Linked DNA regions of Homo sapiens. The main gene of each other region encodes a partner of the protein of the gene in region 3 in a complex. Each region holds a gene or a part of one and is shown on either strand. Other genes may lie near its edges.

Region 1 (3,912 bases), on a different chromosome or scaffold from region 3:
ATTGACCTGAGAAAACTCTAAAGTTATTGCCTTATCTAAGTGACTGTAAGTAGTAAGCTTCATACCCTTGATGTGATGAAAAAGAATATGAATACGAAATACTTTTAAAAACTTATTGATAATTATATTTGGAGATTATTTTTCATTTTAATTTGCCAGGGAAGATTTGCTATCCAAGGCATATCCATTATTGATTTGTCATATAGGAACTTGGTGAATTGGAATAGAAGTAAGAATAACCAGTTTATTGAAAGTAATTAGAGTTGCTATATTCTGCATATAATCACTTTTTAGTAGATTTTTAGATTAATCTGTTACTACTAAAGTTTATTTTTAGAAAATTCAACATGAAATCATTTTATGGCAAACAAATTAAAGACTGCTGTCATATTTGTTTTGATTAAGAGGTTTTGTGTTTCTTTAATAAAAAATTCACTTTTTATAAAAGTGAATAAATTTATACTATAAAAAAATTGTTCCCATTCACATATAAAAAGCAAATGTCTTTTCTAACTTGCCCATCTAGCAAATAGGCAAGAAAATATTTATAGTTAAAAACTTGAGAAATTTGTTTTCTACACTGAAATAGTAAGAAATCACTTGGTCTCCATTGTTTGTGTTATATTACTTCTATGTGTCCTGATAGTATTATAAACCATCTGTCATCCTGTTGAAAAGCAATACTAAGCAACAGCAAGCCATTAAAATGAAATGCCAGACACATAGAACATGCTTTCTTGCTTGTACTTCCTAAGTGTTGGTCTTTTAATTACTAAAGGTGGGTTTTCTTTTGTGAAGTTTTTTGAAAGATCATTTAACCATATGGCAGACAGTTTTATGTTTAATAGCAAGAAAAGGAAAAAAAATTAGGTCTTTCATAACTGAAAATTAAAGGTTTACTTCTTGACTAACTTTTTCTCTCATTGCTGGTATATATTCCTCTAGGAATAAATGGTTTATGTAGTTTTTCTTCTCTGGATAACTTCATAAGATAGTTAATATGTTACTGTAAGAAAACTTCCTATCAATTTTCAGAGTATGTGGACAAATATCTGGATTCCTTCTCTTATAAATCGAATATCTCAGAACTCTATTTTTGTTACTTTTCACATTGATTAAAAATGTATGCATGCAGACAATATTGAAGGCTACCTTGATTTCAAGAGCTAAAAATGTTTTATCAACTATTTCAGAGTAAAGTTCTAAATTATAACTGGATATATTTTAGGTATAATAACTACCATTTTTTAAGTAGGATGTTATTTTGTAAAATTTTATCTTTTACCTATATGTGAATGTAATGCTTTTGTGAATCTTCTTAAGAGTATAAAGGTAGAAAAGGTGTCAATAAGAAGTTCAATTCAAAATTAATTTGAATACGTACATTTGTGCCTAATATGAAAGTGAAAAAATATATTCTTGTGTGAACAAGAGCAATATGTATTTATATAGTGGCATTGGTACCATTGTGAGCTTCTGATTAGCCAGGAAAGTTAATCAGAGAAGTTGAAGTGTTATACCCTTATGAAATATATCAGAGAATGAGATCAGTCCTACCCAAAATGTCACTGTGCAGCCTAATGAGGCAATTGATAAAATCCTTATTAAAGGAGCAGGAGACTCTTACATGATAGTTTAACCGGAATCATGGGCAAATTGTGAAACTAAAATCATGAGAACTTTTTAACACATCATAAAAATTGTACACTTCCAAGTAATTAACTTTGCATATATTTTGTACTCCTGTAACTGTTGCTCAAAATTTAGGAGGACATTTTTTTTTAATGGGTTTAGAATCTATACAGCTGTCTTCTTTCTCTCACACAGTCACTCAGTAAATAAATATTGACTGAATCTCTTCATCTTGGATATGTTCTCCTGAATATTCTGGGTATGGGCATTTTTGCTATTAAGAGTGAATTAAATTTTTGAAATGATCCCTAGTTATTTGGAGAAAAGTCTAAAAGAATTAGATGTTTAACTAAGGTCGATAATACTTTGTTGGGTAAAAACTATGTTAAAGCACTAAATCTGGTTTTCAGATATAGCTTAGAATTGAATCTAAAAGCAATTCCCAAAAAGGAATTTCATATATTTTCTTTTGGAATCATTAGAACAAGAATATGGTATCAAAAATTTTCTGCTTTGCAAATGATAATACCCACTAGATACAGATAAGTTTTGTTCTGTGTGGTTTTTCAGATCAGCTTCATAAGAACCTAATTTGGTGGTGTGATTTAAATTTCCCAATTCATAACTTGGGATGTTTATACAGGTACTGATTAAACTTGGCTCTAATGTAATTATTTACTTTATTTTTTTAGACATCCACAGTTATTTCAGGAAATTCTTCTAGTGCCAGCGTTTCCTCGTCAGTAACTAGTGGCTTAACTGGATGGGCAGCTTTTGCAGCCAAAACTTCCTCTGCTGGTCCTTCAACAGCAAAATTGAGTTCAACAACACAAAACAATACTGGGAAACCTGCTACTTCGTCAGCTAACCAGAAACCTGTGGGTTTGACTGGTCTGGCAACATCATCCAAAGGTGGAATAGGTTCCAAAATAGGTTCCAATAACAGCACTACGCCCACTGTACCTTTAAAACCACCTCCACCTCTAACCTTGGGTAAAACTGGCCTTAGTCGCTCAGTTAGTTGTGACAATGTCAGCAAAGTAGGTCTTCCTAGTCCAAGTAGTTTAGTTCCAGGAAGCAGCAGCCAACTAAGTGGGAATGGAAATAGTGGAACATCAGGACCTAGTGGAAGTACTACCAGCAAAACTACTTCAGAATCCAGCAGCTCTCCCTCAGCATCCCTTAAAGGCCCAACTTCACAAGAATCACAGCTCAATGCTATGAAGCGATTACAGATGGTCAAGAAGAAAGCTGCCCAAAAGAAACTCAAGAAGTAATGTGGCCAAGTAGGTTTTTGTATCATATTAGCCTAAAGATGAAAGGCTTATTATTATGATATAATCTGTAATACACTGTAATTTAATAAAAGTCTTCATAATCAAATTTCTATTGTTTCTTACCTTAAAATGCTAAATATTATATAACAAAACTTGGAAACTTTCATTTTAAATCAATCTTCAACATTTTTATTCTAATGATTTCCATAGTGTGTGAAAACAATGATTAGAATGACTGGTTCTCAATGAGATCTTCAGAAGATTGAAAGCATCTGTGAATTTAAGGAAAAAGAAATAGTTCATCTTCTAGCAAAGCCCCAAGAGTTGATCCTGATGAATGAGGTGCCTTATGTGGCGGCAGGGACGACCCAACATAGTTTTCTATTTTCCTCCCCGTATTCTGGGTGTTCATTTTCTGTGCTAGCCCCATTTCAACTGACTCTCCCTCTCCCTCCCAATTATTTCATCTTTTTCAAAATTATTTTTTCATTATTGATTTCTCATATCAATGGATTTTCCTAATTGATTTATCATACTTCATATTATATCTTTACCTTTTTTATCACCTCATTTCAATTATTTAAGGGTATATCTTTTTCCAATAAATTGTGAACTCTCCTGGTGCTTAATACAATATTTTTTCTCACATTGCTCACTTTTCCTACATTGCCAATGTAATACATGCACATAGTACGTAATAAATGTTGAATTTTGATTCATCTTGGTTATGCACATTCCTGATAAGTTTTGAAGAAAAATACCATTTCACAAAGGTCTTTGCAGATGGAAATATATGACTTGTTCACACACTGATGGCTTCTTCCTATACCATGAAAGAAAAGGCTATCTTACTTAGTGCTCAAAATGTTATAGCACTTTACCTAATTTTAGCTAACTTTGTATACAATAAGCTCCTATATAATGATTAATTCTTGAGATTGTTTTGTACATTGTTAACCCATTTATGCCAGAGGTTGCAAATTTTTTTGGTGAAAAATCAGAC
Region 2 (8,349 bases), on a different chromosome or scaffold from region 3:
TGCCCCTCTGCGCCATTTTCCCAACGACCATTTCTCAAGGCTCCGTGACTCCCTGGGAGTCGCTCTGGCAGCTATCGCACCAGCCCCAGCAAGCCTCATGGTCTGCAGTGTTTTGTTTCTGTGGGAGCATCTCTTTTGGGTAATTTCTTTGTAGGAGTCAAAAAGAACAAGTGTCCTGATGACTTTGGTAGTGAGGTGTCTGTTCAAGCCGCGCCACCTCTGGTTACTGAGTTTTGTGCCAGACAGGACCCAGGGGACTTGTGGGCTGTGGCCTTGCCCTCAGGGAGGGACCAGGCTGCTGCAGTGCAAGCCTGTGAGTGAGTCCCCGACGGCCCTGGAAGGGAGGAGGCCTGGCAGGGAGTTGCAGTATGGGCTTGGGCCTGGAAGCACAGGCGATGAAACCGGGGCAGGCAGGAAAGGGAGATGCCAAGCAGAGAATGGACTGTGCCCAGGGAATGGAGGCCTGGCCTGGCCTGGGCAGCACACGCTCATGAGAGCTGAGGCTGGGCGCTGTGGGCAGTGTTTGTGCTGGACTCAGTTGGCATCAGGGAGCCCTGGGGGCAAACGGCCCAGGATGGCACAGCTGGGGGACTGCTTTAGGAGGTCGAGCCTCAGACCTCCCATGAGGCGTGTCCCTGGGCAGCTGGTGCCGGTGGGGATTGAAGACAGAGACCACAGGCCTCATCCTGGCCCGGGCTCTCGGCCGCCGGCGGCTCGGTGCTTTATTTATCTTTAGCACTACCTCCTGTAGAAAGGAGGTTTTGAAGATGAGAGGAGACGTGGTTATGAAAAGCGTATTCTGAGTGGTAGATCACTTTATAGTATTATTCTCAGCAAAACAGAGAGATGGCTGCATCCAGCCATTTGTGGTAAATGTCCCAGGCTGTCCCTCCATGCTGGCAGCCCACTTGTCCCCCAGCTTGTCTCGGCATCAGGAAATTTATTCCAAGTCTCTGTCCCGGGCGCAGTTAAGGTAGATCACAATGCCTCTGTCCACATGTGTGTGGATATGTATTTACTTATTATTTATTATTTATTTATTTATTTATTTTTTTTTGAGACAGAGTCTCGCTGTGTTCCCCAGGCTGGAATGCAGTGGCACGATCTCGGCTCACTTCAGCCTCCGCCTCCCGGGTTCACATGATTCTCCTGCCTTAGCCTCCCAAGCAGCTGGGATTACAGGCATGCACCACCACGCCTGGCTAATTTGTGTATTTCTAGTAGAGACAGGGTTTCACTGTATTGGCCAGGCTGGTCTCGATTTCCTGACCTCAGGTGATCCACCTGCCTCAGCCTCCCAAAGTGGTGGGATTACAGGTGCTAGCCACTGCACCTGGCCGTTTGTGGATATTTAAAAACACAGTCCTAAAAAACTGTTGGGACAGAGAAGAATCAGAATGAAAATGAGAAAACCTCCGATCCAACAGTGGCAAACACGACGATAGGAAAGGTGTGTGCTGGCCCTGGTGCTCCTCAGAGGATGTGGGAGGGTCAGGCACTCGTCTGGAGGAAGGTTGTGAGCCGAGCACCCATGGAAAGAGGGAGGAAAAGTGGGAAGAAGGGCATGCTGGAGACTGGAGCTGGGGTGGGTGCGGAGAGAGGGCCACTGTGCTGCGGTCCACAGTGAGAAAGAAGCCGCCAGACGGAGCCACGATTCAGTGGAAAGTAAAGCTGCAGGTGGCCTGGCTTGCTGGGAAATGTCTGTAGCCTTTGGGGTAGTCGTGTGGGACACAGCGGAGCCAGGACTGGAGTGGCTGGTGGGCTAGTGCTGAGGCCTGTGGGGCAGCCTGTTGTATTAAGGGGACCATCTGGTGGGGTGCTTGTCCGCTGTGGGAACTTTGCTGAGGGTGGATCGCTGGTCCCTGGCAGGGCCGACCCTGAGAGCTCTGGGTTCCTCGTGGTCTTCCCGGTGTCCCGAGGCTTTGGGGTGACCCTGCCCTGGCCCCGTTCTGACCGTACCGCCTGCCCCGGCCAGTGCTGCCCACGGTGCTGCTGGATGAGATCGAGGCGGCCGAGCTGGAGGGCAACGATGACAGGATCGAGGGCGTGCTGTGCGGGGCCGTGAAGCAGCTGAAGGTCACCCGCGCCAAGCCTGACAGCACCCTCTACCTGAGCCTCATGTACCTGGCCAAGATCAAGCCCAACATCTTCGCCACTGAGGGCGTCATTGAGGTTTGAGCCGGGCCCCTGGCAGGAGGCGAGCAGCGCTGGGGCCCTTGGCTCCCCTCCTCACCTCCCCCTTAAGTGTCCCTCCCGGCCCACCCCAGCTTTGCCTCTGGGGCCAGCGAAGCTCCCACGTGACATGCGCCCTCCCTGGCAGGCTCTGTGTAGCCTCCTGCGGCGGGACGCCTCCATCAACTTCAAGGCCAAGGGGAACAGCCTGGTGTCTGTGCTGGCCTGTAACCTCCTCATGGCCGCCTACGAGGAGGACGAGAACTGGCCCGAGATCTTTGTCAAGGTGAGCGTCCTCTCCCGGGACGGTGAAGATGGCAGAGCGCCACGGGGTGGGGCAGGGGCGAGAGAAAAGCAGAAGTGTGTTCTCTCCAGAGGGCTGTGTCTGACAGCCCTGGTGGTGATGGCACGGTCCCTGCTGCACCCAGAAGCTGGAGAGGGCCGCCTGGGCACCCAGTCCCCGGGCAGCAGGCGGGTGTTCCCCAACCTGGCTGCTGCCCGGCTGGGCTCGGGGCTGAGGGTGTGGCTGCCACACAGGTGTACATCGAGGACTCCCTGGGGGAGCGGATCTGGGTGGACAGCCCTCACTGTAAGACGTTTGTGGACAACATCCAGACGGCCTTCAACACCAGAATGCCCCCCAGGAGCGTGCTGCTGCAGGGGGAGGCGGGCCGCGTTGCGGGCGACCTGGGTGCAGGTGAGACACACGGCCAGCCAGAGAGGGCGGGTGTCCAAGCCCCAGGGCAGGGGAGGGGTGGGAGGATGGGCGGGTGGGAGGCGCTGCATGGAGCCCTCTCCTTGGTTTGCAGGGAGCAGCCCACACCCCTCCCTCACGGAGGAGGAGGACAGCCAGACGGAGTTGCTGATCGCGGAGGAGAAGCTGAGCCCCGAGCAGGAGGGCCAGCTCATGCCCAGGTAGCTGCGTGCCTGCCCGGTCCCAGTTGGGGGCGGCGGGGGCGGGCGCCTCGGGGCCACCTTCCTCCCTCCTCGCTCCCTCCTCTGGCCTAGGTACGAAGAGCTCGCGGAGAGCGTGGAGGAGTATGTCCTGGACATGCTGCGGGACCAGCTGAACCGGCGCCAGCCCATCGACAACGTCTCCAGGAACCTCCTGCGGCTCCTCACCTCCACCTGCGGCTATAAGGAGGTGCGGCTGCTGGCGGTGCAGAAGCTGGAGATGTGGCTGCAGAACCCCAAGGTGCGGGGGCGCCCCGGGGGGGTGGGCGGGGCAGGGGGTGGGGGCAGGCTCTGTGTGGCCCCACAGCGTGGTCTTCCTGCCGGGGTGGCCGTGAGCCCACTGCTCCCTCCTCGGCCCCGCAGCTGACCCGGCCGGCCCAGGACCTGCTGATGTCCGTCTGCATGAACTGCAACACGCACGGTTCCGAAGACATGGACGTCATCTCACACCTGATCAAGATCCGCCTCAAGCCCAAGGTCCTCCTCAACCACTTCATGCTGTGCATCAGGTGCGTGGCGAGCCGGGGCAGAGCGGGGGTGCGGGTGGAGTGGGGGTGTGGGTGGGGGTGTGGGCGGAGCGGGGGTGCGGGCGGAGTGGGGGCACAGGCGGAGTGGGGGCACAGGCGTAGCGGGGACAGGGTCTGTACCCTCACCTCACCCAGGGAGCTGCTGAGCGCGCACAAGGACAACCTGGGCACCACCATCAAGTTGGTGATCTTCAATGAGCTCTCCAGCGCCCGGAACCCGAACAACATGCAGGTCCTCTATACCGCACTGCAGCACAGCTCAGAGCTGGCGCCCAAGGTAGGCCCAGGGTCCCTGGCCTTGCCCTCCACGCCGGAATATGGGGCTCTGGGCTGGAGGGGCACGTGGCGTCTGGGGAGGCCGGTGGATTGGCAGTGCTTCGTGGGAGAATGCTCCTCGGTCTCGGGAAGGAGCTTTTGAAACTCACGTGGGCATGAGGTTGAGCCGTTTCTAGAGTGGGTGCAGCCACAGCGCCCAGCGTCTTTCTCAGAAACTGACACTCTGTCCATTTAGGAGGGAGCCACATTGAGTCTTAAAAGCCACCCAGGTTTCTGAGCTAAGACCCAGACCTGTTGCCTTCTGTTTTTATTTTTCAAGCTCATTCCTGCCTTTGGATAGTAAGGTAGTTTTTAAAAATTTTGTGGAGACCGGGTCTTATTATGTGGCCCAGGCTGGTCTCAAACTCCTGGGCTCAAGCGATCCTCCTGCCTCAACCTCCCAAAGTGCTGGGATGACAGGCATGAGCCCCTGTGCCTGGCCCAGACCCGCCTCCTGTGCATTGGGTCCCTCGGTTAAGCAGGGGTCCCTGTAGCCCTGGCTGTAGGACCCTTGGATTTCCGTGTCTCCTTTGAAGCGGGCTCGGGAGATGCTCCCATCGCCACCAGCGCATTAGGCCTCCCGGTGGGCTCTATGGAGTGTGAAACACGAGGGAGGCACAGCCGCTCTCAGCTCCGCGTTCAGTCTTCGCGGCCTGGCATTTTGAGACAGGAGTGCGTCCTTTCAGATCCTTTCAGATCTTGGGTGGTGGCCTTTGGTTTCCGTTCAGCCCGTGGCGCACGGGTGGGCTGAGATGGCACACGCGCTTCTATGGCTTTGCCGCCTGGTGTCCCGCACCCCCAGCTTCCGTTAATTAATCCTCCTCATTTCACGAGGACCGACTCCCCACCTGCCGGTTCTCAGAGAGGGGAATCAGATGTGATCCCTGCTCGCCAAGGGCTGGCAGCCAGTAGAGCAAGGAGCCCGCCACCCCGCACCCCACACTGTCTGAGACCCACTGCAGCGCCCTCGGGCGCCATACCTGTTGGTGCTGCGGGAAGGGGCCTGTGACAGGGACAGCACTGTCGGGCAGCCTCCCACGCGGCCTCTCTCTGCCCCAGTTCCTGGCCATGGTGTTCCAGGACCTGCTGACCAACAAGGACGACTACCTGCGGGCCTCGCGGGCCCTGCTGCGGGAGATCATCAAGCAGACCAAGCACGAGATCAACTTCCAGGCCTTCTGCCTGGGGCTCATGCAGGAGCGCAAGGAGCCGCAGTACCTGGAGATGGAGTTCAAGGTGCCAGCCCTCGCCGCTGGGGCGCCTTTCCCTCACTGCGGGTTCCACGCGCCGCCATCCCCCTCGTCCTGGGTCCCATGCACACTCCACCCCTTCGGATGCTCTGGCTGAGCGTGGGTACGGGGATGAGTGAGGCTGTTTGCGGTGACGCGTCCCAGAGGGTAGCATAGGCTCTGTCCTGTGTGAGGACCTATGAGGGGCTGACCAAGCACAGGGGAACTGGCAACCCCTAGGCTGGATGGGATGAATTGCTGCCGGCAGCAAGGGGAGCACGGGAGCAGGGAGGCAGGGTGGGGCTGCGGGCTGCCTGGCTGGGTTGGAGACTTTTCGAGGGCTGTGGAGGGAGCTGGCGCTGGAAGGCACAGTGAGGGTGGATCACAGAGATGCCAGGTCCCTGCAGCCAACTCGCAGCCAGCCTGCCGGGGTGGCCTGTTTTGCGGACGGGGCTTTGTGGATCTCTGTTGACTGAACCTCCCTCCTGTGGCCAGACTAGGACCTTGTGGGCCACCGGCCCTGGTGCCCCTCCTGTCAGGCCCCTCTCCCAACTGGTCCTGGGCTCTCTCTCTGGATCCCTGCTTGTGTGTGTGTATGTGTGCGCATGTGCAAGTGTGTGCGTGCTGCACCCACGTGTTTGTGGAGTGGGGCTCCCGGGTGTCCCTTCTGGATACAGACCCCGTGCCGCGCCCACGTGGGTGTGGAGTGGGGCTCCCGGGTGTCCCTTCTGGATACAGACCCCGTGCCGCGCCCACGTGGGTGTGGAGTGGGGCTCCCGGGTGTCCCTTCTGGATACAGACCCCGTGCCGCGCCCACGTGGGTGTGGAGTGGGGCTCCCGGGTGTCCCTTCTGGATACAGACCCCGTGCTGCACCTGCAGGAGCGCTTCGTGGTGCACATCACCGACGTCCTGGCCGTGTCCATGATGCTGGGCATCACAGCGCAGGTGAAGGAGGCCGGCATCGCCTGGGACAAAGGAGAAAAGAGGAGTAAGGATGTGGGGGTGGCCTGGCCCTGCTTGGTGGGGGTCTCGGGTCCAGGCTGGTGGCTGGCGGCTCTCCGAGGCTGCACTGTCCCCTGAGCGCCCGGCAGGAGCGGTCCCGCAGCACGGCTACTCGGGGACACGGAGCCTGGAAGCTGCCGTCCCCGTTCCTGTCCATCCGGGCCTCACCCCAGCTGCAGGCTCAGACCCTGTTCCCATGAGCGTCCTTTGTGTGCTCCAGTTCTGGCCCAGCATGGGGGCATTGCAGGCGTGGTGGCCCCAGCCACGGGCGGGAGTGGGGAGGGGAGGTGGTGTTTGGGGCAGTCCGGGTGTTTGATTATGGGTTCACAGGAAGGCTGGGCCGCAGAAGCCCTCTAAGCCATTGACCGGAGCGAGTCACTCGGAACAGGAGGATTCCAGTCACCCACGCACGCGTCAGGGTCACTCCATGCCTCCCAGGGTGTTATTCCAGCTGGGAATCGTCCAGAAGCTGGGGGTGCCCTGAGTTACCCCCTCCCAAGTGCCAGCATTGAGTTGGACCCCCAGGGGTGCCTTAGCCCCTCATGGCCCATGGCTCGGATGGGCCACTAAGCTGCGTGTCTGTTTCAGACCTGGAAGTGCTCCGCTCATTCCAGAACCAGATTGCCGCCATCCAGCGGGATGCCGTCTGGTGGCTCCACACTGTGGTCCCCTCCATCAGCAAGCTCGCCCCTAAGGACTACGTGCACTGGTGCGGCTGGGGCCCTGTACAGCCCCTGTCCCACACCCCACTGAGCCGGGACAAGCCGGGGCCCCGCACAACCCCTGCCCCAAACCCCACTGAGCCAGGACAAGCCAGGCCCCGCACAGCCCCTGCCCCACACCCCACTAAGCCGGGACAAGCCAGGCCCCCACACGGGAGTCTGTCCCCTCTCTGCGGACAGCAGCAGCCGTTAGGCTCCAGGCAGGTCACCCTGTGCATTGGAGCCTCCCGTGGAGCCTCTGCCTTGGTTGGGGTGGGGCTGCCAGGCTGGGGCTGCATTTCTCTGCAGCGATTTTGTAAAGGGCTGTCCAGCCCGGCAGCCCCGTTCGGCCGCTGTGCAGCCTGGCAGCCCCGTGAGTGGTCCCTGGGTTCTTTGGTGGTGCTGTGAGGAGGTGCTGAGCTTGGGCACCAGGCAGCCCGGCCTCTGAGCGCTGGGGCCCGTGGGAGCGGGGTCCCTTCCCTGGAACTAACGGGGCTGGTCCCTGAGCACCCACATCATGACTGAGGGCTCTTCTCTGCCTGCCCAGCCTGCACAAGGTGCTGTTCACAGAGCAGCCGGAGACCTACTACAAGTGGGACAACTGGCCACCCGAGAGTGACCGCAAGTGAGTGCGCTGCCGCCTGGGGCTCCTGTGTGCCGGGCTGGGCGGGGCTGCGGGGTGCCGGGCCGGCTGCGGCAGGAAGGGCCAGTGGGAGTTGGGCGGCTGTTCCCATGGTCACAGCACCATCCTGCTCCTCCTCCACAATCCTGGGTGCCACCCTTCTCCCACTCCCATGCTGGCGTCCCAGCGCCACTGTAGGGATTCAGCTGCCGTCTGCGTCCACGTGACTCCAAGCCCCAGCCGCAGCCTCCCCCGGACCCCCGCCTTCCAGTTGCTTCCAGGGCGTCCACGGGCACGCCACCCTTCACGCAGTCTCAGATGCACCGTCTGCCCCTGCTTCTGTCCAGACAGCCGCACACTGTCCTTCCCCAGCCGGCTGGCCTCACAGCTCTGTCCCCCTTCAAGCCCCATGGGTGACCCCGTGGGTTCTTGGTCTACACTCCCCTCCAGCCCCGCCTGGGGCTCCTGCCAGTTCACCCTGCCCCCACCTCGTGCCCTGGGCGCTCTGTTCACCTTCACTGCGGCCTTCCGGTCAGGCTTTGGAGGTGTAGGGGTTATCTCTGTCTCCTGGCCCCCAGCTCCTTGAGGGCAAGAACCATCTAGAGGCCTCTGTGGGGTGGCAGAGTCTCCGTGTGGTGGTTGTAGGAACCAGTGACTGTGTGTGTATCCCCAAAGGCCTTGGGGTGGGGGTAGCCTCCCCTTCTCCCCTTGTCCAGGCGAGACTTAGAGCCAGGGCTCCTGTCCTGCAAAGGGAGGCTCAGGTTGGAGGGGATAGGCTCGTGGGAGGCAGCAGCAGCCCTCTGCCACCAGCCCGTGGGCTCTGAGG
Region 3 (8,349 bases):
TCCTGTGGTGTTTTCTAAGTTCATGCTGTTCTGTATATTTTCATATTTTTTCAGCTACTAAATCAATATATAGATGGTAGGTTCAACAGAGGACAGCTAATTATATAAAAATAAGTGTTTATTAACAAATGGGCTCAGAGTAGAAAATGCAGACAGATGGGTTCACTTTACCATATTTTGGGATCATCATCTTATTGCGTACAGCACTGTAGGCAAGTAAACGAAACCAAAGGCTGGCTCCCCTGGCCGAGGCCTGGGACTGATGCAAGACAGCCAGCCAGTCACCTCCGCCTCCCATGAACCTCTTGGAAAACTTCTCCTGTCCCACTTCTGCCACCCTCCAGCTCCTTGAGAGAGCCAGAGTTGAGAAGAAAATGAGCCTGAAGTTGAAAGGGAAAGTTCTTGCCTGAAACAGTGCTGGGAATAAGTCCAGACCATTTCCCTCAAGAGCCACCTCTTCACTCCTTAAGCCAGAGGACACCACAAAGACACAGTTAATGGCCTCTCATGCCACTCCTCAGGTGGCTTGTGAGGGCAGCCAGTGAGGGACTGCAGGATTTCAGGGAAGTAGCTCAGATGGCCCACTCAGAACTTCTGTAAGAATTTGAGGACAAGGTCCCGCAGTCGCACTCTGAGCATCTCGTCATTGTCGCAGATGATATGGGTCGAGTCTTCTTCAATCTGGATGAGCGTCTCAGCCTCCTGGAGCAGGACGATATGGCCCTTGGCTGTGTCCTCCACCTTAATATCACTGAAGCCATGCTGCTCCAGAAGAAAAGAAAGAGGTGGGCTGGGCAGACTGCACATCTGTGAGATCTGTAAATGACACTTCACAGACTCGACTGAACTTTCTAGAAACTGACACGTCTCAACACAATTCTTCAGACTAGTCATAGGCCTATGATAGTGATAGTTTCTTATACTTGAAAAGAGACCCTAAACATGCAAAAGCTCATGCAAAACAACAGAATTTCCACAACCTGGCTAAGCTTTTGTGAGTTCTTTGAGGGCACGTCCAAGCACTGTGTTCAGGAGTCTGGGACGCTCAGCTGCTTGCACCATGCCGTTCCCTGGTGACAGCTCCCTCCTAAGTTTCAGCTGTCTGAGCTCCCAGGAAAATGCCAGGTGACACCAAGATACCCCTGTGGGACTTGGCAGAGCCCTCTCAAGAGTGAAGGAGAGAAGGCAGCAGTGCAAACTTCTCAGCTATTGCTAATGCTAAGGACAGAAATTCCTTACAAATCAGACGTGACATGGAAAGGAGGCATGTGCCTGAAACAGACACACAGCAGGTGAAGGGCCTCGGTGTGGGGAGGCCACCTGTACTTCATGGCTGCAGGCTCCCCTAGGGACTTGGACAGGTGCTTGCTCCTTCTGCAGAGAGGAGCCGGGGTGGAACACTGGGTCAGGACATAGGCTGGGCCAGGCAGAAGGTCCTCATCTTAAGTTTTTAAAAGTCCAGCTTGAGGCCCATTAACAGGGCCCAGGAGCCCTGCAAGGTCTTCAGGGAGGGTGGAAGAGAGCCGCAACCACCCAGCCAGAGCCTTTTTCCCTACGGGAAAATCAAAGACAGGTGGAGAAAACCAATCCTAGGAAAGGGAAAGCCTTTAAGATTTGAAAGTCGGCAACTGTGATATTTACATTGGATAGAAAGTTCATAGAAATCTCCTTCCTTGTAATGATTGTAATTTGTTGCAGTTCTTGCAAGCAGCAGCATGAACAGTATTACCTTTAGCCAATTCCTTCTTCCTATCAAAGATTCTATAATCCTAATAAAGTCATCTCTGAAGTCCTGTGACTGAAGCCAAAATTACAACCTTTAAGGTTAGATTTTTTTCTTTTAATCATAGTCAAGAAATCTCATCTCTGGGAGAAGCAGCCATCAGGGCTGCTGAGACAGAGGGGAAGGGCCAGTGTCCCCTCCCCCGACTGCCTCCTGCAAATCCTGACAGTCGACTGGAGACTTGGCTCCCCTCTGACAGCAAGGAGTCATCTGTGGAAGTGCAAGACTCTGGCAGGGCCGGGTCCCTCTTTGTCCTGGCCTCACTACCCTGCCCCACTCGTCACATGTGTGTGTGGAAGCAGCTTTTTCTTCAGTCTGGAGAGGCCTTCTGGTGACCTCGTGCTGGGAGGAAGGATGGGGCACTCCTCACTCTGCTTTCTTTCTCCTGGGTCTCCCAGCAGGACCTTAGACCAAACAGATGCCACAGGACAGTGGGGACTAAGTGACAAGCAGCAACATCCACTCCCTGCAGCCAGGGGGCCATAGTGAGCCAGGGAAAGGCTGCCACGTGTGGAGTTTTCACGGCACCAGCGAAACCAGCTCACCTTCTCCAGGGTCTGCACGAACTGCTCCACAGGGATGGAACCGCTCAACAAAGGCTTCAGGACTTTGCAGTCTGGTACGTCATCGCTCACCCGCTTTCTCTTCTTCCCGCTCGTGGGCTGGGCGGGCCGAGGAGGGGGCTAGAGCAGAAGGAAAGAGTGGCTTTCATGAGCTTCCTCTGAGCAGCAGGGGCCACCGCAGGCCACACTGAGAGCCTGAGACTATCCTGTCCTCACAGGCCACAGAGCCCCGGCCCGGTTTCCTCAGCCGGCACTCGGTTCAGGTTCCCTGGCTGCCGGGAGCCCCAGATCCACGCGCTCTAATGCTCAACTGTCCAGCCTACCAACACCTTATTCGCTAAGATCTCTGCCTTCTATCAAGATCCATTTTTAAATTTTCAGGTGGTTCACTTCAGTATCTGCTGAGTAAATTCTCCAGAATACACTGTGTCGTGCTGCAGGTACATCATGACCCCGTGGCTGGGCACACTGGCTGTGGGGTCAGACCAAAGGGGGAAACCCCACCTTTGCCACCATCTGGCCAAGGTTAGAGAAGCTGCCTACGAAATGATGACAGCAGTGAATTCTGACGGCTCAGTAAGACAAGGCGGGTCAAGGACCCAGCACAGGGTCTAATAGACTTTAAGTGGTAGCTAGGAGCAACTCTACATGTGGCATAAAGGTGACACAGTCCAGATCTGAAAGGAATTCTTAAGACACAGTGCCTGCCCTGGAGCTGAAGTGCCACCCACCTGTGTGTGGGTCATTGGTAGGACCAGGCTCTCAGGTAGCCACAGCCTCACGCAGGTGCCCTCCGGTTCCAGCCCCCAAGGGCAGGGCTGCACCTGCCACCCTGCACGTCTCCCCACAGCCCTGCCTCGCGTGGCAGCGCTCCCCAACAGAATGTGCCTGTGGCAGCCCTTGGGATGACGTGCGGCCTCATCTCTGGGCACAGCAGCCTCTCTGAGGCACATGGCCAGGGAAATAATTCTTCAACAAGAATTCACATGAAGCGCTATTTCAAATATAATCTGTTAGGTGGTCTGGTTTCTTGCTGGGGAGAGGGTCCCCTGCACTCCCACCCAGCACCCCCTACCTGAAGCAAGTGCTTGTTATCTTTGGTGTGCAGCACGGCCGAGACAGTTGCCAAGGAGATGCCAGGCTTGATCTCCATGGGCACCAGTGAATCTGCGAGCTGAAAGCAAAGGGCGCAGTTCAGGCTGGGGGCCTTTAATGATGACCATTACTCTTCCTTTAATCTGTATTTACATCACTGCAGTCTAAAAAGATGAAATAACTTTAAAGGTAAACAATTTTTTTTTTTTTGAGATGGAGTCTTGCTCTGTCGCCCAGGTGACACACCAAGTGCAGCCTTTCATTCATTCTGGCCTTTACTTCACCCTCATCCCCTCTCCAGGTGACCAGTGGCAGGAAGGACGGGGACAGCAGCATGGCGGTTGAGGGAGCTCTCTCTTCCTGAAAGTCTGACTTCTCCTGATGGTGGGAGCCACGGCTTTACCTGGGGGGTGGTATCTTTCCGACCACCTGCACCTGATGGGTGCCCTGCCGTGCAGCCTGACCTTATTAGGTGCTCTGTTGCTGGGTTTAGCTGCATGGTTTTTAAGACATGTAGACCCCTACCTAGCCAAGCCACCTTTATTTAAAAACAAAAACATGCAAGAGGCCATTATGTAAACATGAAGATCAATACCAAACGGGCAGAGGAAGCAGCTTAGGATACTTAAGCAGATTGGCAAGTGGTACGTGAGGCCTGTTTCATGAAATAAGAAAACGGCCTATGGCGAGCGTGAAGCGGCCCTTGCCGAGGAGCAGGGTGTGCGCCAGATCCCGTTCTTCACCTGAGGCCTCCTCCACACAGGCCCCTCCTCCCTGCACAAGGCTGGGGTGGGAGCTTTGGGGATGGCGTTCTGCGCTCTCCCTGGGCAGCCATGCACTATTTCCAAGACGACTCTGAAGGAGTCTTTTTTTTTTTGAGATGGGGCCTCACTCTGCTGCCCAGGCTGGAGTGTGGTGGTGTGATCATAGCTCATTGCAACCTCAACCTCCTGGGCTCAAGTGATGTTCCCTCCTCAGCCTCCCCAGTAGCTGGGACTACAGGCATGAACCACCACGCCTGGCTAATTTATTATTTTTTTGTAGATACGGGGGTCTTGCTGTGTTGCCCAGGCTGGTCTTGAACTCCTGGCATCAAGTGATCCTCCTGCCTTGGCCTCCCAAGGGCTGGGATTACAGGCCTGAGCCAATGTGCCTGGCCATAATGTCCATTTTAAAGGCAATTACTGTAGCAAGTTGGATTGAGACAGTTACCTCCATTAATGATCAAAGACGTACAGTTTGGCTGGGTGCGGTGGCTCACGCCTGTAATTCCAGCACTTTGGGAGGCCACGGTGGGCAGACTGGAGTTTGAGACCAGCCTGGCCAATATGGTGAAACCCCATCTCTACCAAAAATACAAAAATTAGCTAGGATTGGTGGCATGTGCCTATAATCCCAGCTACTCGAGAGCCTAGGGAGGAGAACTGCATGCACCCGGGAGGCAGAGGTTGCAGTGAGCCAAGACTGTGCCACTACACTCCAGCCTGGGCAACACGGCAAGACTCCGTCTCAAAAAAAGACATAGGGCCGGGCACGGTGGTTCACGCCTGTAATCCCAGGACTTGGGAGGCCGAGGTGGGTAGATCACAAGGTCAGGAGATCAAGACCATCCTGGCTAACACAGTGAAACCCTGTCTCTACTAAAAATACAATAAATTATCCAGGTGTGGTGGCAGGTGCCTGTAGTCCCAGATACTCGGGAGGCTGAGGCAGGAGAATGGCGTGAACTCAGGAGGTGGAGCTTGCAGTGAGCAGAGATCTCACCACTGCACTTCAGCCTGGGCAACACAGCGAGACTCCGTCTCAAAAAAAGAAAAAAAAAGACATACAATTTAAAATTAGATAACAGTGTATACTTATATAACTGGAAAAGACTTGAATAAAATTGGAAAATAACTAAAAAAGGACAACATTCAATATTAGCAAGGAGGCAGAAGTAAGAGCTGTCTCCAGCTCTGCTGTGGGAGTATAAACTGTCACACTCATTCTAGAGGACAAGCTGGCAATATATAGCCTCGAGCCAGAAAGGGATGTTCATAATCTTTGACCCAGAAATTCTAACTTCAGAAAATTTTCTTATGGAAATAAACATATATGGACAAAGATTTATGTAAAAGGATGCTCCTAAAAGTGTTATTTATAACACAGAAAAACCAGAAATGAAAATCTGTGAAAAAAGGGGCCAGGCGCAGTGGCTCACGCCTGTAATCCCAGCACTCTGGGAGGCCAAGGCGGGTGGATCACAAGGTCAGGAGATTGAGACCATCCTGGCTAACACGATGAAACCCCGTCTCTACTAAAAATACAAAAAAATTAGCTGGGCATGGTGGCGGGTGCCTGTGGTCCCAGCTACTAGGGAGGCTGAGGCAGGAGAATGGCATGAAGCTGGGAGGCGGAGCTTGCAGTGAGCCAAGATCGCGCCAATGCACTCCAGCTTGGGTGACAGAGCGAGACTCCGTCTCAAAAAAAAAAAAAAAAAATCTATGAAAAAAGGAACTGTTAAATTATGACAGACCATTATGCAACCATTAAAGCTGAAGCTTTTGAAATATCTTTTTTTTTTTTCTTGAGACGGAGTCTCGCTATGTTGCCCAAGCTGGAGTGCAGTGGCGCGATTTTGGCTCACTGCAACCTCAGCCTCCCGAGTAGCTGCGATTACAGGCGCCTGCCACCACGCCTGTGGCTAATTTTTGTTTTTTTATTAGAGACAAGGTTTCATCATGTTGGCCAGGCTGGTCTTGAACTCGTGACCTTAAGTGATTCACCCCCGCCTCAGCCTCCTGAAGTGCTGGGGTTTACAGGCATGAGCCACCATGCCCAGCTGAAATATATATTTTTTGAGACAGAGTCTCGCTCTGTCATCCACGTAGGAGTGCGGTGGCATGATCTTGGCTTACTGCAACCTCTGCCTCCCGGTTCAAGCAATTCTCTGCCACAGCCTCCAAGTAGCTGGGATTACAGGTGCGTGACACCACGCCCAGCTAATTTTTTTTAGTGGAGATGGGGTTTCACCACCTTGGCCAGGCTAGTCTTGAACTCCTGACCTCATTGTCCACCCGCCTCGGCCTCCCACAGTGCTAGGATTACAGGAGTGAGCTACCATGCCTGGCTGAAATATCTTAAATGATATAATGTACTTACTGATAGGTGAAAAAGACGACAGTGTATGAGGTGTGATTCCAGTAGGCACACACACAGTGAACAGACAAGGCAAATACATCAAAATCTTAACATTTATCCCTGGCACTGGGACTGATTTTTGCTTTTGTCTTTATCCCTTAGTTATGTTAACATATAATAGGTTTGTATTATTAAGTGAATATTTTTAAAATGTCTTAGTTTTAATTTCTCATATAGCAAACATCAATAGACATAACCCACATAAACAAAACCTCTTTGGAGTTCTATTTGTAAGGATGTCTGAGACCAAAAGGTTTAAGGAATGCTGGCTTAGAGAGTTGAAATCTAAACCAAGGCCGTCAATCCCAGCCCCTGTAAAATACCAGACAAAAACAATCCAGAGAAAGTGAAAAAATCATAACAAAATGATAAAAACATATTAAACATTAAACAACCATAAAGATGGCACCTGGTGGTCCCTAGCAGCCTCTCCAGGCTCATGGAAATGAGTCACATTCAGGAGCCAAGACCTCCAACCCAAGGTCTGGAGGCCATTTCTGAACCTCAGACTCCAAAAGAAGTTTGGGCACACTGGTTTTAACAATAAGTTTTTATATTTCTTTTTCCTGTCTGTTGAAAACACATTCAAGTTGCCTCAAGAGGTGAAAGGAAGCCAGAGGTAGCCTCCAACCATCCTCAACGCTGTCTTTCAGGAGAGGCCGCGTCCCTCTCTGTCTCCCTCTCAGAGGAGTGGCCCAAGCGCAGCATGCCACAGCTGTTCAACATGGACAGCATGCTTTGGCTCTTTCCCTGCTAAAACTGAAGCTAAGAGTTCACAGACCTATAAAATACTTAGACTTTGATAGACCAAAACCTGCAAGTATGCTCAAGAGGATATAAATAACCAAGTTTACAATCCTTATTTTTTGGTTCCTGTTATCTCCCCCATCTACCTCTGAATTCAGCAAACTCTTGACACTCACTCATAACTGAGGTCCAGGAAGGAAGAGAAAAGTCACCATCCTATGGTATTTAGGGACAGAGCGGGTGTCAGCATCTCCACTTCCCAGGGCTCTGACCCATGATGTGGCCCAGGGCTCACGCTGCTGAATGCTAGGTAAGGAGCAGTCCTGACTAACAGCTGTTATTTTATTAGTTGAAAAACAAGAAGGCCCTGAAAATCCCCCCTCTTCCCGGTTACTTGGTTAAGGGTCCATGTTCTTTGTTCATTCATACTTGGAGTCTCACTCTGTTGCCCAGGCTGGAGTGCAGTGGTGTGATCTCGGCTCACTGCAACCTCCACCTCCTGGTTCAAGCGATTCTCAGGCTTCAGCCTCACGAGTAGCTGGGATTACAGATGCGTGCCACCACACCTGGCTACTTTTTTTGTATTTTTAGTAGAGATGGGGTTTTGCCATATTGGCTGGGCTGGGTTGGCCAGGCTGGTCTCGAACTCCTGACCTCAAGTGATCCGCCCACCTTGGCCGCCCAAAGTGCTGGGATTATAGGCGTGAGCTACTGCGCGCAGCCTGGTTCATTTATACTTGACATAAATCCAAAAGAAGGCCACCCCTGCACGATCTCCAAGAGCCTCTGTGGAAAGCTCTAGTTTAACCCTAGGAAGGAGAACAGCTCACCTCTGGCATGATCTCGATCTTCTCGTACCGACGTTTGAAGGGCAGGGCGAGAACCTCAGCCCGCCGATAGGACATGGCGGGGGGCTGGCAGTCGATCATGAGGTCCATCCTGTGGGACTGGGCTGGGGGCGGCTGAGTGTACTGCTCAGGA

What was found. Proteins that work in one complex are often made in the same cells at the same time.
Region 1: INTS9 (region 3) and INTS12 share a complex: the UniProt entries of both Homo sapiens proteins name them as parts of the integrator complex.
Region 2: INTS9 (region 3) and INTS1 share a complex: the UniProt entries of both Homo sapiens proteins name them as parts of the integrator complex.

The regions. Positions count from the first base shown.
Region 1 is NC_000004.12:105,681,730-105,685,641, reverse strand, and holds the end of INTS12 (integrator complex subunit 12), read left to right. Parts: intron 1-2,324; coding exon 2,325-2,909; 3' UTR 2,910-3,015; downstream 3,016-3,912. UniProt on the Homo sapiens protein: Component of the integrator complex, a multiprotein complex that terminates RNA polymerase II (Pol II) transcription in the promoter-proximal region of genes.
Region 2 is NC_000007.14:1,493,993-1,502,341, reverse strand, and holds part of INTS1 (integrator complex subunit 1), read left to right. Parts: intron 1-1,975; coding exon 1,976-2,172; intron 2,173-2,320; coding exon 2,321-2,458; intron 2,459-2,709; coding exon 2,710-2,869; intron 2,870-2,981; coding exon 2,982-3,087; intron 3,088-3,180; coding exon 3,181-3,367; intron 3,368-3,489; coding exon 3,490-3,635; intron 3,636-3,788; coding exon 3,789-3,930; intron 3,931-5,027; coding exon 5,028-5,204; intron 5,205-6,077; coding exon 6,078-6,186; intron 6,187-6,788; coding exon 6,789-6,909; intron 6,910-7,448; coding exon 7,449-7,526; intron 7,527-8,349. UniProt on the Homo sapiens protein: Component of the integrator complex, a multiprotein complex that terminates RNA polymerase II (Pol II) transcription in the promoter-proximal region of genes.
Region 3 is NC_000008.11:28,767,561-28,775,909, forward strand, and holds the end of INTS9 (integrator complex subunit 9), read right to left. Parts: coding exon 8,199-8,349; intron 3,521-8,198; coding exon 3,422-3,520; intron 2,467-3,421; coding exon 2,329-2,466; intron 2,188-2,328; coding exon of another isoform or gene 2,047-2,187; exon of another isoform or gene 817-2,046; coding exon of another isoform or gene 763-816; coding exon 586-762; 3' UTR 101-585; downstream 1-100. UniProt on the Homo sapiens protein: Component of the integrator complex, a multiprotein complex that terminates RNA polymerase II (Pol II) transcription in the promoter-proximal region of genes.